Linked DNA regions of Homo sapiens. Each later gene encodes a partner of the first gene's protein in a complex. Each region holds a gene or a part of one and is shown on either strand. Other genes may lie near its edges. The genes, in order: CALR3 and CELF1.

Region 1 (9,054 bases):
CACTTTGGGAGGCTGAGCCGGGTGGATCACTTGAAGTCAGAAGTTCGAGACCAGCCTGGCCAACGTGGGGAAACTCCATTTCTACTAAAAATACAAAATTAGCCGAGCGTAGTGGCGCGTGCCTGTGGTCCCAGCTACTCGGGAAGCTCAGGCAGCTGAACTGTTTGAACCTGGGAGATGGAGGAGCCATTGCACCCCAGCCTGGGTGGCAGGGCGAAACTCCGTTTAAAAAAATAAATAAGCCAGACGCAGTGGCTCACGCCTGTAATTCCAACACTTTGGGAGGCCGAGGCGGGCGGATCACCTGAGGTTGGGAGTTGGAGACCAGCCTGACCAACATGGAGAAACCCTGTCTCTACTAAAAATACAAAATTAGGCCGGGCGCGGTGGCTCATGCCTGTAATCCCAGCACTTTGGGAGGCCGAGGCGGGAGGATCACGAGGTCAGGAGATCGAGATCATCCTGGCTAACACGTGAAACCCTGTCTCTACTAAAAAAAAAAAAATACAAAAAATTAGCCGGGCGTGGTGGCAGGCGCCTGTAGTTCCGGCTACTCGGCAGAAGAATGGCGTGAACCCAGGAGGCAGAGCTTGCAGTGAGCCGAGATCGCGCCACTGCACTCCATCCTGGGCTACAGAGCGAGACTCCGTCTCAAAAAAAAAAAAAAAAAAATTAGCCAGGTGTGGTGGCACATGCCTGTAATCTTAGCTACTTGGGAGGCTGGAAGCAGGAGAATCATTTGAACCTGGGAGGCGGAGGTTGTGGTGAGCAGAGATCACGCCATTGCACTCCAGCCTGGGTAACAAGGGTGAAACTCTCTCTCAAATAAATACATAAAATAAATAAAAACCTTGAGCAAGTTGTGTGATCTGAGTCATGCAGCATGCAGGTGTAACCTCTGCTTCTTAAATCATAGATAAACCTTCTTCCTCATTGTTCTTGTTTGGCAAATGACTAGGACAAACCAGAGACCAGGCCTCCTCTATTTGTGACCACTGACCTTAGTTACAGATTAACTGCCTCCAGGACTGACCTGTACCTAACTCAGACCAGATGGCACAAAAGATGCCGTGACTGTTACATCTTCAGGGTGAAATGTTAAATATACCTTCTCAAAAGAAAAAGACCACCTTGACTAATGGGATCATGGTCATTATCTATCAAGCCTTGCCTAGAAAGATGCTGAAATTCTGTTAAGCTTCTCTAAACTTTGTCTATACAAATGATCCCAAACTTCTACACTTCAGAACACTGACTTCTATTCTTTGGGATCTGTGTTTTCCACACAGTTGTCCTTAAACTTTGAGCTTGAATTAGCTCTCTTGAAGCTAGAATTTTTTTTTTTTTTTTTTTTTTTTTGAGACAGAGTCTTGCTCTGTTGCCCAGGCTGGAGTGTAGTGGCACGATCTCGACTCACTGCAACCTCCGCCTCTCGGGTTCATGTGATTCTCCTGCCTCAATCTCTCAAGTAGCTGGGACTACAGGCCTATGCCACCATGCTCGGCTAATATTTGTATATATATATATTTTTTTTCTTGAGACAGAGTCTTGCTCGGTTATCCAGGCTGGAGTGCAGTGGCATGATCTTGGCTCCCTGCAACCTCCGCCTCCTGGGTTCAAGTGATTCTCCTGCCTCAGCCTCTGAAGTAGGTGAGATTATAGATGTGTGCCACCATGCCCAGCTAATTTTTGTATTTTTAATAGAGACGGAGTTTCGCCATGTTGGCCGGGCTGGTCTCAACCTCAAGTGATTCGCTTGCCTTATCTTGACCTGCCTGTACAAAAGTAAAAGCTCATTGTGTTGTACCCTGAAGAATGTGCAGGCGACAAGATGTAATGTTTATCTCTGTATTTTTTTCTTTTATTTTTTGAAATGGAGTCTCATTCTGTCACCCAGGCTGGAGTGCAGTGGTACAATCTCAGTTCACTGCAACCTCTGCCTCCTGGGTACAAACGATTCTTCTGCCTCAGCCTCCCAATTAGCTGGGATTATAGTTGTGCGCCACCACACTTGGCTAACTTTTTTGTATTTTTGTGGAGACAGGGTTTCACCATGGTGACCAGGCTGGTCTCAAACTCCTGACTTCAAGTAATCCGCCTGCCTTGGCCTCCCAACATGCTGGGATTACAGGCGTGAGCCACCGTGCCTGACCATATTTTTCTTTTTTTTTGAGATGGAGTCTCACTCTGTCACTGAGGCTGGAGTGCAGGGGCATGATCTCTGCTCACTGCAACCTCTGCCTCCCGGGTTCAAGTGATTCTTCTGCCTCAGCCTCCCGAGTAGCTGGGACTACAGGCATGAGCCACCACACCCAGCTAATTTTTGTATTTTTAGTAGAGACAGGGTGTCACCGTATTGGCCAGACTGGTTTTGAACTCCTGACCTCATGATCCGCTCGCCTAAGGCCTCCCAAAGTGCTGGGATTACAGGCATGAGCCACCGCGCCTGGCCTATTTTTCTTTTTAATACGAAAATTAAAATGAGAAAAAGTACCCACTAACCTTTTCCTTCTGAGGGGCATGGCCCTTGATCCTCAAATGCACTTGACTAGTGTCTATTAAGAGGGGCAATTTTGGTAATGCCTACTAATAACACATTCATATAAATATAATCCAAAGAAGGTTAAATACCATTGCATATTTGACAGTGCTTCAAGTATGATTTTATTATACCAAATAAGCTGAATATGTCTCCTTGGACTTCAGGGGACCTAATACCAATAAAAGTAATAATAATGATAATAGGCCAAGCACCATGGCTCACGCCTATAATCCCAGCACTTTAGGAGGCCGAGGCAGGTGGATTACTTAAGGCCAGGAGTTTGAGTCCAGCCTGGGCAATGTGGTGAAACTCTGTCTCTAAAAAAATTAGCAGGGCATGGTGGCGCACGCTTGTAATCGCAGCTCCTCAGAAGCCTGAAGCAAGAGAATCACTTGAACCCGGGAGACGGAGGTTTGAGTGAGCCAAGATCGTGCCACTGCACTCTAGCCTAGGCGACAGAGCGAGACTCCTACTACCAAAAAAAAAAAAAAAAAAAAAAAGGAATCTTTGGCAATAAAGAAAGGAGAGAGGAGGCTGGATGTTGTGGCTCATGCCTGTAATCCCAGCACTTTGGGAGGCCAAGGTGGGTGGATCATGAGGTCAGGAGTTCGAGACCAGCCTGGCCAACGTGGACCCTGTCTCTACTAAAAGTACAAAAATTAGCCGGTCATGGTGGCGCGCGCCTGTAGTCTCAGCTACTCGGGAGGCTGAGGCAGGAGAATTGCTTGAACCCGGGAGGTGGAAGTTGCAGTGAGCCGAAATCGCGCCACTGCACTCCAGCCTGGGCAACAGAGCAAGGCTCCGTCTCAAAAAAAAAAAAAAAAAAAAAGGAGAGAAGAAACAAAAAAACAAGGAAAGGAGCCCCTTAAGTTCTACCTTTGCCTTAATGTCTTCATCTGTAAAACGGGAATAAAAGCGTTTTGGCTGTGCCACAACTACCTAGAGAGGTTGCTATGGAAATGTAACATTAGGCTCAATTTGGTCCTGATTCTACACTAACCTTTATCTTTCTCTTTATGACCATAAAACTTGCCCGACGAAAGTCTAAAATGCCCAAATCGGGAGTCATTGGTGGACTGCAACCATCGGTTTCTCCAATGCTCTGTGGGGAAGGGGAAATAACACCGGTTAGAGGTGATAATGGTTAATTTGGGCTAAGGGAAGGGTGAAGGGGACCCTCGAGGATTCGAGGGTTCGCTGCCGTGGACCCCGTGGCGACTCTGGCCAGCCTTAGGGGGCGGAGATGGGGGAGCTTACACCTCCGCCACCACGGGCGTGGCCCCTTCACCTCCGTCTAGAAATTCCTCTTGGAAATAGACGGTAGCCAGCGCCACTCGCAGCATGCATATGGCCCAGAGCTGGACCAAAGCCCGGGCCATGGGGGTGTGCACTGCGCTTCCGGTCGCCGCCACCCCTTAGCTCCCAGCTCTCTCTGCGGCTCTTCAGGCGCGTCCCGAAACTACAACTCCCGTCACAACTCGCGATTATGACCTGAGGGTCCCATTGGTCGCTGCGGCGCGGGGCACGTTGGGCCCGCCCCGGAACTACCGCTCCCATGACACCCCGCGATTGTGATTCGGGGCGCCATTGGTCTGCGGGGCGCGGTGCTTCCCGGGAGATGTAGTCTCTTCTGCTCTGGCTCTGTTGCCCAGGGCAACCGCTCCTTCAGGCGTGAATGTGGCGGCTGCCTCTGCGAATGGACGGCGTGGGAAGAGGTCGGCAGGGCTGGTGGGGAGGTGACCTAGCTGGGCGTCCGGGCTCGCGAGGGGGATACGGGGAAATGGGGCCTTCTCCGGGGCTGAGCTGGTTGGGCCGCTGCAGGATGGTCCCGCGCCTCAGTTTCCCTGTCTGGGGTCTATTGGAGCATGGTCCTGCGCGGGTCGCTTCATAGCTGGGGAGAAGAGCAGGATGGTCTCAGGGGCGCCAGGGTTTTCAAGTTTTGGTTTGTTGATTTGTAACAACTTTATTGAGCCTTCATTTACATACCATAGTGTTCGCCACTTTTAAGCTGACGACTCCGTTATTTTTAGTAAATCTACAAAGTTGTGAAGCCGTCGCCACCATCCAGCTCATCCAGCTTTAGAACTTTGCGTCAGGCCGGGCGCGGTGATTCACGCCTGGAATCCCAGCACTTTGGGAGGCAGAGGCGGGAGGATCACTTGAGGCCAGGAGATCCAGACCAGCCTGGGCAACCTGGCGAGACCCCATCTCTAAAAAAGATAAAAATAAAAAATTAGCCAGGTGTAGTGGCACGCGCCTGTAGTCCCAGCTACTCAGGATGTTGAGGCAGGAGGGAGGATTGCTTGTGTCCAGGAGGTCAAGGGCTGCTGTGAGCTGTGATCATGCCACTGCACTCCGGCTAATTTTTTGTATTTTTAGTAGAGATGGGGTTTCACCATGTTTGCCACGCTGGTCTCGAACTCCTGACCTCACGTAATCTGCCAGCCTTGGCCTCCCAAAGTGCTGGGATTATAGGCGTGAGTCACAGCACCGGCCCGATCTGCTTTCTGAGTTTATTGGTTTGCCTTTTCTTGACAGTTCTTACAAATGAAATGATAGGGTGTGTGGAGTTTAGTGTCTGGCTACTTTCTTTTTTCTTTCCTTTTTTTTTTTTTTTTGAGACAGATTCTCGCTCTGTTACTTAGGCTGAAGTGCAATGGTGCGATCTCGGCTCACTGCGAACTCCGCCTCCCAGGTTCAAGCAATTCTCCTGTCTCAGCGTCCTGAGTATTTGGGATTACAGGCGCATGACACCACGCCCCGCTAATTTTTGTATTGTTAGTAGAGACGGGGTTTTACCATGTGTGTCAGGCTGGTCTCGATCTCCTGACCTCGTGATCCGCCCGCCTTAGCCTCCCAAAGTGCTGGGATTACAGGCGTGAGCCACTGCGCCCGGCTTGGCTACTTTCCCTTAGCGTGATGTATTTGAGATTCCTGCGTGCTGTTATATTAGTATTTGTTTTTTAAATTGCTGAACTGTATTACACTGTATGGATGGACCATAGTTTGTAATCCATTCACTAATTAATGGATAGTTACATTGTTTTCCGTTTTAGTCTACTAGGAGTAATAAATATTATGGGGCCAGGTATGATGATGTGGGATTGTAATCTCAGCATTTTGGGAGGCTGAGGCTGCGGATCTCTAGAACCCCAGGAATCTGAGAACAGCCTGGGCAACACAGTGAGACCTTGTTTCTACAAAAAGTTAGCTAGGCATGGCAATGTGTGTCTGTAGTCCCAGCTACCCAGGAAGCTGAGGTGGGAGGATCGCGTGACCCCGGGAGGTCGAGGCTGTAGTGAGCCATGATAACACCACTGCACTCAGCCTGGGCAACAGAGTGAGAGCCTGTCTCAAAACAAAACAAAACTATTACGAACATTTGCATACATTTGCATTTCTCTTGGGCCACATGGGAGTGGAATCCCTGGATCACATGGTAACTCTATGTCTAACCTTTTGAGGAACCAACTGTTTTCCACATTGAGGACTACATAATTTTACAATTCCCCCAACAACATATGAGGGTTCCAATTTCTTTATTTTTTTTAGAGATAGGGTCTTGCCCTATCATCCGGGCTGGAGTCCAGTGGCACGATCATAGCTCACTGCAGCCTCAAACTCCTGGGCTCAAGCAATCCTCCCACCTCAGCCTCCCGAGTAACTGGGACTACAGGTGTGTGCCATCAGACCCAGCTAATTTTTTCATTTTTTGTAGAGATGGAGTCTCCCTATGTTGCCCAGGCTGGTCTCGAACTCATGGGTTCAAACAGTCCTCCCATCCTGGCCTCCCACAGTGCTGGGATTACAGGTGTGAGCCACTGTGGGCTTCAATCTGTTCACTTCCTCACTGACACTTGTTACGTGTATTTTTGATTATAGCCATGCTAGGGGATGTGAAGTAGTAGCTCCTCATGGTTTTTTTCTTTTTTTTTTTTGAGACGGAGTCTCTCTCTTTTGCCCAGGCTGGAGTGCAATGGCGCGATCTCGGTTCACTGCAAGCTCTGCCTCCTGGGTTCATGCCATTCTCCTGCCTCGGCCTCCTGAGTAGCTGGGACTACAGGCGCCCACCACCGCGCCCGGCTAATTTTTTGTGTTTTTAGTAGAGACGGGGTTTCACTGTGTTAGCCAGGATGGTCTCTATCTCCTGACCTCATGATCCGCCCACCTCGGCCTCCCAAAGTGCTGGGATTACAGGCGTGAGCCACCACGCCTAGTCTGTTACTGGCATTTAAATGTTACTGAGCACTTTTTCATGTCCCACACAGAATATATAGGAATCCTATGAGGGTAGTAATTGTTATTTTTACAGATGAGCAGGCTGACACAGAGCGATTAAGTAACTTGCCCGGGGTCACACAGACCAGGAAGTCTGCATTATTTCTGCCAGGCATATTTTTCTGTTCTCTGACCCCTGTGGTCAGTCCTGTGCTGGGCACTCCTAGTACAGGGTAGTTAAGATAGGAACAAGCAAACAAGTTTATTCGGGAAACAGATTGTTAATAGGAATCATAATTCATTCTTGTATAGAATCTTTTTTTTTTCTTTTTTTTTGAGACGGAGTTTTACTCTGTCACCCAGGCTGGAGTGCAGTGGCGCAGTCTCGGCTCACTGCAAGCTCCGCCTCCCGGGTTCATGCCATTCTCCTGCCTCAGCCTCCGGAGTAGCTGGGACTACAGGCGCCCGCCACCACGCCCGGCTAATTTTTTTGTATTTTTAGTAGAGACGGGGTTTCACCGTGGTCTCGATCTCCTGACCTCGTGATCCACCCGCCTTGGCCTCCCAAAGTGCTGGGATTACGGGCATGAGCCACCGCACCCGGCCTGTAGTTTTTCATCTTTTAAAGTCTTTGTAATCTTCGGAAGCCTTTGTAAGTCTTGCAGTGGGTTGTTCATACTCTTTCAGGGGTATATGGGAACTCTGAGAATATGATGAAAGCTCTGATATTTCTACCTAGAAAAATATACACATACGGTAAAGATTTGCTGGCCTGCTGGGGAGCTGTGCCTGTCCATAGCCCCCCTCTTTCCCAGGGTAGCGGTTCTTCTTTTTTTTTTGAGACAGAGTCTCGCTCTGTCGTCCAGGCTGGAGTGCAGTGGTGTGATCTCGGCTCACTGCAACCTCCACCTCCCGGGTTCAAGCGATTCTCCTGCCTCAGCTTCCTAAGTAGCTGGGACTACAGGTGGTGCCACCAGGCCCGGCTAATTTTTGTATTTTTAGTAGAGACGGGGTTTCACCATGTTGATCAGACTGGTCTTGAACTTATGACCTCGTGATCCACCCACCACGGCCTACCAAAGTGCTGGGATTATAGGCATGAGCCACCACGCCTGGCGCTTGACTAATTTTTGTATTTTTAGTAGAGATGGGGCTTTGCCATGTTGGCCAGGCTGGTCTCGAACCCCTGGGCTCAGGTGATCTGCTTGCCTTGGCCTCCTAAACTGCTGGCATTATAGGTGTGAGCCACTGAGCCCAGCCATTGGTAATGGTTCTTACACTAAGTGAAATCTGATTTTCTGGGGGCTTGTTAAATACAGGGATACCTCGATTTTCACACGTCACCTTATTGCTCTTTCAGGTAATTTGTCTTTTCTTTTTTCTTTTTCTTTTTTTTTTTTTTTAGACAGGGTTTCACTCTGTAGCCCAGGCTAGAGTGCAGTGGCAGGCATGGTGGTGTGCACCTGTAGTCCCAGCTACACAGGAGGCTGAGGCAGGAGGATCACTTGAGCCTGAGAGGTTGTGCACCACCACGTCCAGCTAATTTTTGTATTTTTAGTAGAGACGGGGTTTCACCATGTTTGCCAGGATGGTCTCAATCTCTTGACATCGTGATCCACCTGCCTCGGCCTCCCAAAGTGCTGGGATTACAGGTGTGAGCCACTGCACCCAGCCTGGTCATTTTCATTGTCATCCTTGGGCTTGAAGGGAAGACTGTGGCTGGGTTGCAAAAGACAGTGTGAGCTTTTGCCAAGTAGGAGCCATTGAATGCTCAATACAAACAGCAGGTACTCTTATGCAAAATTGCTCCTCTTCCTCCACAGAATGGCTTCTGCAAGGAAAGCCAGCCGTCCCATGCGTGATGTTTTTGGTGACTTCAGTGATGTTTCCTTGGAAGATTCAACAATGGAAGAAATCAGAAACTTCCAGATCAGTAGAAATCTTACCAAAATAGCACCTGGTCATAGCAGATTTCTAAAAAGAAACCAAACTCTAGATGAGAAACACTTACTCCTGAAAGAGAACCCTGTGCTCGGGAGTGGACCCAGGCTTGCCTCATGTAGACCGCCCACCACTGCCTCCAGGATCCGAGCCAATGCCGCACTCATGAAGCTGGCCCAGCTGGAAACCCGGATCATGAATCGGAAGCTGCAGAGGAATTTGTCTGACACGGAATCTGACTCAATGACCGCCGATGCTGGTCTTCCAAAGAGAGCTGACAGAATCCTCTCTGGGGGTGCACTCGAACTCGCGTCCCAGAACACAGACAAAACTTCCCAGAATCAAGCCCGTGA
Region 2 (9,177 bases), on another chromosome or scaffold:
ATGATATATATATATACACAATGGAGTATTAGCCTTAAAAAGGAAATAAATCCGGTCACACAGTACAACATGGATGAGTCTTGAGGACATTACACTAAGTGAAATAAGTCTGTCACAAAAAACAGACATGGTATGATTCCACTTACATGATGTTATCTAAAGTAGTCAAATTGGTAGAAACAGAAATAATGGTGGTTACCAGGGGCTAGTAGGAGGGGGAAAAGGGGAGCTGTTGTCCAACAGGCATAGAGTTTCAGATACGCAAGATGAAAAACTCACAGATCTGTTTTCCAACAGTGCGAATGTACTTAATGTCACAGAACACTTAAAAATGGCTAAGTTAGTAAATGTTGTGGGTTTTTTTTGTTTTTTTTTTTTCTGAGACAGAGTCTTGCCTTGTTGCCCAGGCTGGAGTGCAGTGGTGCAATCTCAGCTCACTGCAACCTCCACCTCCTGGGCTCAAGGGATTCTCCTGCCTCAGCCTCCCAAGTAGCTGGGACTACAGGCACATGCCACCACACCTGGTTAATTTCTGTATTTTTAGTGGAGATGGGGTTTGACCATATTGGCCAGGCTGGTCTCGAACTCCTGACCTCGTGATCCGCCCACCTCAGCCTCCCAAAGTGCTGGGATTACAGGTGTGAGCCACTGCGCCCAGCCAATTTTGTGTTTTTAACCACAATTTTAAAATGTAGGCCAGGCTCAGTGGCTCACATCTGTAATCCGAAGTTCAAAACCAGCCTGGGCAAAACAGTGACACCCTGTCTCTACAAAAACAAACAAACAAAAAAAAACACCGGGTACGGTGGCTTACACCTATAATCCTAGTACTTTGGGAGGCTGAGGTGGGCAGATCACCTGAGGTCAGGAGTTCTAGATCGGCCTGGCCAACATGGTGAAACCCCATCTCTACTAAAAATACAAAAACCCTCTGGGCGCAGTGGTGGGCGCCTGTAATCACAGCTACTCGGGAGGCTGAGGCAGGAGAACTGCTTGAGCCCGGGGGACAGGGTGTGCAGTGAGCACTCCAGTATGGTTGACAGAGCAAGACTCCATGGCGGGGTTGGGGGGGACCGGACCCACATCACAAAACTGTGACTAAGATAAGCCTATTTTGGGAAGATAGGCATTTCTATAGCATATGAAAAGGATGGGCAAGATAAAGACCCAATATTTAACAATCATCTCTGAGTGGTGGCACTATGGGTGAGTTTCTTCATTTTTTGACTTACCTGTTTTTTTTTTATAGTGAATCTGTAACTTCTGTATTAAGAAAAATACACGGAAGTCTTTAGAAAAAAATCATTTTGGCTAAAAACTTCACTGTCTGCCTATTACATCATGGGTATTTCACCATGTTACTGAAGCTGAACTAATACCATGTGAGACAGATGCTGTTTCTTTCATTTTGCAGGTGCGAATAAACTGAGGAGCAGAACAGTTGAGTGACTTGCCAAGGTTGTGTAACCAGTAAATGACAGAGCAAGCATTACAATCCAGGCCTAGTTCTAACTTCAATTCAGGGTCCTTTCCCATTTCATTACACCTCAAAGGGAAGATTGCATTATTACTCGTGATATTGTTTAAAAAAAAAAAAAACATAACCTTGGGCAAGTAAGTCACTTAATTTCTAGGGCCCTCAGTTTCCTCATCCAAAAAGTGAAGGGGTTCTAGAAAAGATATTCCATCTCTAACAGCCCCTCTTGCTACCAGATCTTAAGTCTAGATAGCACAATCTCTAAAGAAAACCCTGGGTTTTCTTTAAAGGGGTCAGAATGAATGGTTGAATAGAAGTTGAGGCCTGTGATCTGGGCCAAAGGCCATTCTTAATGGAAACAGGTGGTGGACTGTCATGAGGAAAGAACCACTAGGGGAACCATAACCTTCCTGGTTAAAGCAACAACTGAAAGCTCCAGCTTTGCTTTACCAACAGTGCTGCTTCAATCTTGGCTAACTCATGATCAGAAACCACATACTAGGTAAGTAAAGCCTGAAGAATATAAAAATTAACATGAGAAGAAAATCACTGTAGCAACAGTTTGTGCATGCTATTGTAATTCCATGATTTTCTAAGTGGACTCTTTAATGCTAAAACAGAAAGGGTGATTCTATATTGAGACGCCTTCATTCTCACCAAGGATTAATAGAGAGGCTGAAACTTCCAAAGCGCTTGGAGAGAAGCTACACTTGTGGGCAAGGGGAAAGCATCCAATTAAAGCCTTCCCAATTCATGGGTAATCAAAGACAGTGAAAAGAACTTTAAAAGGTGAAGTTCCGGGCGGGGGCGGTGGCTCACGCCTGTAATCCCCAGCACTCTGGGAGGTCGAGGCGGGTGGATCACCCGAGGTCAGGAGTTCGAGACCATCCAGCCTGATCAACATGGTGAAACCCCGTCTATACTAAAAATACGAAAATTAGCCAGGCCTGGTGGCACATGCCTGTAATCCCAGCTACTTGGGAGGCTGAGGCAGGAGAATTGCTTGAACCTGGGGAGGTTGCAGTGAGCCGAGATAGCGCCACTGCACTCCAGCCTAAGCAACAAGAGCGAAACTCCGTCTTAAAAAAAAAAAAAAAAAAGATGAAGTTCTTGTAAAAGATTCATTATTTGTAACCTCTTACACTGCACACATTATAAAGCATTTCATGCTCTTTAAAACTGTTATACAGCCTTTTTACTCGAAGGTAATAAACCTACAGCTCTCTCCTGGCGAGAAAGAGATTCCATTTTGCGGAAACAGATTCCAGTCAAAATCTTACCACATTCCCCTCAACTATGGGTATGAGCCTAAACCAATGAGAAGCTCCTTGGTGCATGTGTAATGGTCTCCAAGAATTACAACAACATCCTACCCGGAGGACCACAACCACGACACCACTGGCTTTAAAATCAAAGCCTGGTCCCTAGCGAAGAAAGCGCTTTAATGTGCTCCTCCCGCTCCCGGGTGCGAGATTCCTGCCCAGCTACTAGGCCACGACTGGGTGAGCACCTGATGTGGGGGGAGGGCGAGCCAAGGCCGTAGCGGATCTGGGGCGAGGAACGAGGGGCTCTCGAGGCTCGGGAAAAGCGCTGCCTTCTAGGGGCGCGGACCCTTCGGCACCCACAGGAGTGGACACTAAGAACACGTGAGACGACAGGGGCAGAGATGGGGTGTCCCGGGCAGGTAGCCTGGGTCCAGCACGGCAGCCAGAAAGACGAGGAAAACGGAGCTGGCCCTGGGCAGGGCACGAGGCCTCTGAGCCTAGAGAGTGAAGGTAAAGGGCGCGGGGAGAGGAAGCAAAGCCACGAGGAGGGCGGGTCTCCCTGGGCGCGGGGGCACGCGCTGGGCAAACGCGACAGGACCCGGGGAGCCGGGGACCCCGACATGCAGGAGGAGATCGCAGCCCTACCCCAGGACGCAGGGAACGAGAAAAGGCCGCGCCCGGAGGGCCCTGTGACCCGCGGCCTCCCTAACCGGACCCGCCCCGCGGCGCCTCCCTCTTGCCTTTTTTCCCCTCCCTCCCTCCCGCGGCCCGTTATCCTGCGGCCGCAGCACTCACCAGCGGCTGCACCTGAGCCTGCCGCTGCCTCAGTTGCTGCCTGCGCCTCCGCAGCCGCCGCCGCCGCCTCGCTGCTGAGGCCGAATCCCGGGGGAGCCTCCGCGTCCCGCCGCCGCTGCCGCTGCCGCCAGAGCAGAACACCCCAAAATGGCGGCACTTCCGGCACCTACCACCGGCGGGGAGGGCAGAGGAGGAGGGGGAGCGCGGCGAGGGGGAACGTATCACCGCGGCGCCGCCCGCAGCGCCGATGCGAGCGGAGCGCGGCGTAGGGGCGGGCCGAGCGCCGGGCGCTGCAGCGCCCCCTCGGGCTGGGAAGTGGAGGAGCAGCCGCACCTAAGCCCCTGGGGCCGCGGGCGGAGCCCTCAACCTAGGGAGCTGCAGGGGCGCATCTCTTTGTCTCCGATCCCTACTGGAGGGAAGAGCCAGGCCTGGGAATCTGAAGTTCTCGACTCCGCCCATCGCACCCACAGGAGCTCTAGATGACCCTGGTGGGCAAGGAGGCACCCCTACTGGGCACTGAATAGGAGCATAATAAGATATTTGTTGAATAAATGGATGAGTGAGTGACTGGTGCTTGGCCAGCGTTGGGCACATGGCACGCCCCTTTTTGCCCCAGCAGACAAGCAACAGCATCCAGGCCTTCCTTCTTTGCTGGGATGTGAATATGTGTGTTCCAAGTGCAGGGAGTGCTTTTTAGCAAGATAATCAGTGTGAACGCACAACCTGGCAACGATCGCTGCGACATAAGGAAGTTCACAAAGATTCTATTAAGAGACCGATTGCCCAGCCATAACCTGCTTTTACCGAAAAAAAAATATATATATATATTTTTTTTTCTTAACTCAGGTTAGGTCTCTAAAGACTTCCTCCTGAGTTACTCTGGAATCCCTGGGTCTAGATGGAACGCAAGCAGTACAATTTGTTGTTGTTGTTGTTGTTGTTTAAGCCAACATTTATTCCTAGGTTCCAGACCTTGTGAGGCAGTTAAATGCAGATTAAGAAAGAAAACTTTGTTCTGGAAGCTTTTGGCCCCATCAACATGCAAATAACTCATGGGATGGTTTCTCTCTAACATCATCTGGCTTCCCAGAGAATATAATTTTTATACCCACAAATACTGATTATATCCTACCTTACCACAAACAACAAGTGGGCTTCCAAGCAGAAGCCTCAAGGGTTTTCCTCTTTCGCCTTTGGGGGGGAAAAAAACTAACCAGAGTTTTTCTGGTACCATATAGTCCTTAAATTGTACATGATCATATTCCCTAATTGTACTGGGTAGTTTTATATACATTCATAATGCTGATATATGATCTTGTTCTTGTTAATAGTTTTATGTGTAGTTGACTGAAAACATCCTATATTTATAGACCATTATAGCTTACAGAATGTTGTCACAAATATTACCATATATTTGCTGCTATAGGTTGTAGAAATGTTTCAAGCAGAGAGTCTGTCTCCTTTTGTGCTCCATAGAATCATGTGGATATCCACATGGCTCACTTCCTCACCTCCTTCAGACTTTGACTTAAGTGTCACCTTCTCAGTCCAGTCTTCCCTAAGCACTCTATTTTACACTGCTTGCATGCATGGCATGTGCACACACACACACACCCATGCTTTCAATCCCACTTTCATTTTTATCCAAAACATTTATCATTATCTAACACAGTTTTTTTTTTTTTTTGAGACGGAGTCTAGCTCTTGTCACCCAGGCTGGAGTGCAGTGGCGCGATCTCGGCTCACTGCAACCTCCACCTCCCAGGTTCAAGCAATTCTCCTGCCTCAGCCTCCCGAGTAGCTGGGATTACAGGCGCGTGCCACGATGCCTGACTAATTTTTGTATTTTTAGTGGAGACGGGGTTTCAACCCCTGTTGGTCAGGCTGGTCTCAAACTCCTGACTGCAAGTGTTCTGCCCGCCTCTGCCTCTCAAAGTGCTGGGATTACAGGCGTGAGCCACTGCACCCGGCCTCACAGTATATTTTGTATTTATATATTTTACTTGTTTTATTGACAGTAGCCCAGAAGGTAAACCAAAGGTAAACTTCATGAGGATAGAGGTTTTGTCTGTTTTATTTCACTGCTCTATCCTCAGGGCCTTGATAATGCCTAATCCATAGTACATGCTCAATAAATATTGTTGACTTACTGAATAGGTATATCTAGGTGCCAGATATGGAAAACAAAATGTTGCGCCTTTAGAAGCTTCTTGGAACCTGCCCATGAGCTAAATAAGGAAAGGCACCATGCCCGTCTTATTATATCTCCAGTGCTTTTCACAATATCTGACTCAATAGATATTTCTTGAAGAGCAAACAGAAACTCTTCCATGCCCATCTTGTTATTCTCCTAATATCTCCATTGCTTTTCACTGTATCTAACTCGATAAACTTCTTGAAGAGCAACCAGAAGCTTTTTCCTATTCTATCTGTGCCTTGACTTAGGGCTCCCATTTGCAAGGGAGGAACTTGTAAGGTATTAATATCACTCTTGCATTTAGTTACCAAGGAAGGCCACAGACTGTTAGCCCAAGGTTGGGGGGAAGAACAATTACATGAAGAACACAAATAGATCTTGTAACTTCAAAGGGTTTCAGCAACATAGACAAAATGCTAAACAGTCCAAATACAAAAAAAGCCTAGTGTGAGATTTAAGAGTATGTAAAGCTTCCTGTTTCATGTTTTGCCTTACAAATAGATTAAGATTTATTTTTTTTAAAAAATAGCCAATGTCGGCCAGGCGCGGTAGCTCATGCCTGTAATCCTAGCACTTTGGGAGGCCGAGGCAGATGGATCACCTGAGGTCAGGAGTTCAAGACCAACCTGGTGAAACCCTGTTTCTACTAAAAAATACAAACGTTAGCCAGGCATGATGGCGGGTGCCTGTAATCCCAGCTACTCGGGAGGCTGAGATGGCAGAATAGCTTGAACTTGGGAGACGGTGGTTGCAGTGAGTCGAGATCGAACCACTGCACTCCAGCCTGGGCGACACAGCAAGACTCTGTCTCAAAAAAAAAAAAAAAAAAAAGCCAGTGTTAGTAAGAGTGCAGAGAAATAGCCTTCTCCAAGTGGTGATGGGAGTAAAGTTCAGATAATCTGCCTAGAGGAATCTAAACTTTTACATACCTTTCTAGGAATTTATCCTAAGGGAATATTCATGGATAATGGCAGAGATTGTAACATTTTTTATTTTTTTAATTTTACTTTTCTAGACACAGGGTCTTGCTCTGTCACCCAGCCTGGAGTGTAGTAGTGCTATCATAGTTCACAGCAACCTTGAACTCCTGGGTTCATGAGATCCTTCCACCAGAACCTTGTGAGTAGCTGAGATCACAGGTGTGTGCCACCATGTCCAACTAATTTTTTTTCTTTTGTAGAGACAGGGGTCTCACTATGTTGCCCAGGCTGATCTCAAACTCCTGAGCTCAAGCAACCCTCCCCACTCGGCCTTCCGAAGTTTTGGGATTACAGGTGCGAGCCATGACACCTGACCATAACATTGTTTAAACAGCATAAAATTTGATACAAAATGAGATTGATAAATTATGGTTCATTCATAGCCATATAATAATAGATAAATATAGAGGAAATGATGATAGCCAGGCATGATGGCATACTCCCATAATCCCAGCTACCCTGGAGGCCAAGGCAGGAGGACTGTTTGAGGCCAGGAATTCAAAACCAGCCCAGGCAACATAACAAGACACCATCTCCATATAAATAAAAAATTTAAAAATGTTAGCCTGGCATGGTGGCATGTACATCTGCAGTTCCAACTACTTAAGAAGCTGAGGTAGGAGGATCCCTTCAGCCCAGGAGTTCCAGGTTGCAGTGAGCTATGATCACGACACTGCACTCCAGCCTAGGCATCAGAGTAAGACCCTGTCTCTATTTGGTTATTTATTTATTTATTTATTATTTATTTTGAGACGGAGTCTTGCTCTGTTGCCCATGCTGGAGTACAGTGGCACCATCTTGGCTCACTGCAATGTCTGCCTCTCAGATTCAAGCGATTCTGCTGCCTCAGCCTCCTGAGTAGCTGGGATTACAGGTGCACACCACCACGCCCAGCTAATTTTTGTATTTTTAGTAGAGTCGGGGTTTCCCCATGTTGGTCAGGTTGGCCTTGAACTCCTTACCTCAAGTGATCCGCCCGCCTCAGCCTCGCAAAGTGCCGGGAGCCACCACGCCCGGCCTATTTACTTTTCTTTCTTGGTTTTGTTTGTTTTGTTTTGTTTTTTTTTTGAGGCAGAGTCTGGCTCTGTGGCCCAGGCTGGAGTCCAGTGGCACAATCTCAGCTCACTGCAACCTCCCCCTCCCGGGTTCAAGCGATTCTCCTGCCTCAGCCTCCCGGGTAGCTGGGACTACAGGCACATGCCACCACATCCGGCTAATTTTTTGTATTTTTAGTAGAGACGGGTTTCACCGTGTTAGCCAGGGTACTCTCGATCTCCTGACCTCATGATCCACCCGCCTTGGCCTCCCAAAGTGCTTCAATTACAGGGGTGAGCCATCACGCCCGGCCTATTTTTCTTTTTTTTTTGAGACGGAGTCTCGCTCCGTTGCCCAGGCTGGAGTGCAGTGACTTTTCACAGGCATGATTCCACTACAGATCAGCATGGGAGTTTTGACCTGTTTCTTTTCCAGCCTGAGCCGGTTCACCACTCCTTAGGCAACCTGGTGGTCCCCCACTCTCTGGAGGTCACGATGTTGATGCAGAACTTAGTGCAGACACCTGATTGACATACTGCACTATAGCCCAGAACTTCTGGACTCAAGTGATCCCCCTGCCTCAGCCTCCAGAGTAGTTGGGACTTACAGGCACATGCCACCTCGCCCTGCCCTTGTCTCTAAAAGAAAAAAAGAAAACTCTTTTTTTTTGAGATGGAGTTTTGCTCTTGTTGCCCAGGCTGGAGTGCAATGATGCAATATCGGCTCACTACAACCTCCGCCTCCTGGGTTCAAGAGATTCTCCTGCCTCATCCTCCCGAGTAACTGGAATTACCTGTACCTGCCAGCATGCCCAACTAATTTTTTGTATTTTTAGTAGAGACAGGGTTTCACCATGTTGGCCAGACTGGTCTTGAACTCCTAACCTCAGGTGATCTGCCCGCCTCAGCCTCCGAAAGTGTTGGGATTATAGGCGTGAGCCACCGCGCATGGCCGGAAAGAAAACTCTTAAGGCCTGGTTACATTCAGGCGGTGCTGCGAGCGTCACACTGCATCACATCTGGAGGCCTATAGCCTATGATGTCAAGTTGTCTGTCCTGCTTTTACTGACACAGACTCATCAGTGGTTGAGGTGGCCCGAGCCTGATCCCTCTATGGTCAAATTTCCTATGAGTGTTTTATATATATAATCAGAAAATCTGCATTTTGGTAAAATAATGGATCTAGTCAATAGCCATCAATGGATAAAAGCATTAGATGAAACCCTCATATATATATTATATATATATATAATATATTAGATGAAACCCTCATATATATATTATATATTTAATATATTATATTATATAAATAATATATGTATATGTATATATTTATATATTTATATTATATATATTTATATATAATATATAAATATATATATATATTTATATTATATATGTATAAAATATGTGCAATATAATATATAAT

What was found.
Region 2: CALR3 (region 1) and CELF1 share a complex: the UniProt entries of both Homo sapiens proteins name them as parts of the EIF2 complex.

Annotation. Positions count from the first base shown.
Region 1 is NC_000019.10:16,492,209-16,501,262, forward strand, and holds the start of CALR3 (calreticulin-3 precursor), read right to left. Parts: upstream 3,960-9,054; 5' UTR 3,922-3,959; coding exon 3,831-3,921; intron 3,645-3,830; coding exon 3,543-3,644; intron 1-3,542. Other genes in the region: uncharacterized protein C19orf44, read left to right, coding at 8,585-9,054. UniProt on the Homo sapiens protein: During spermatogenesis, may act as a lectin-independent chaperone for specific client proteins such as ADAM3. Required for sperm fertility. CALR3 capacity for calcium-binding may be absent or much lower than that of CALR.
Region 2 is NC_000011.10:47,549,455-47,558,631, forward strand, and holds the start of CELF1 (CUGBP Elav-like family member 1), read right to left. Parts: upstream 3,679-9,177; 5' UTR 3,538-3,678; intron 1-3,537. UniProt on the Homo sapiens protein: RNA-binding protein implicated in the regulation of several post-transcriptional events. Involved in pre-mRNA alternative splicing, mRNA translation and stability.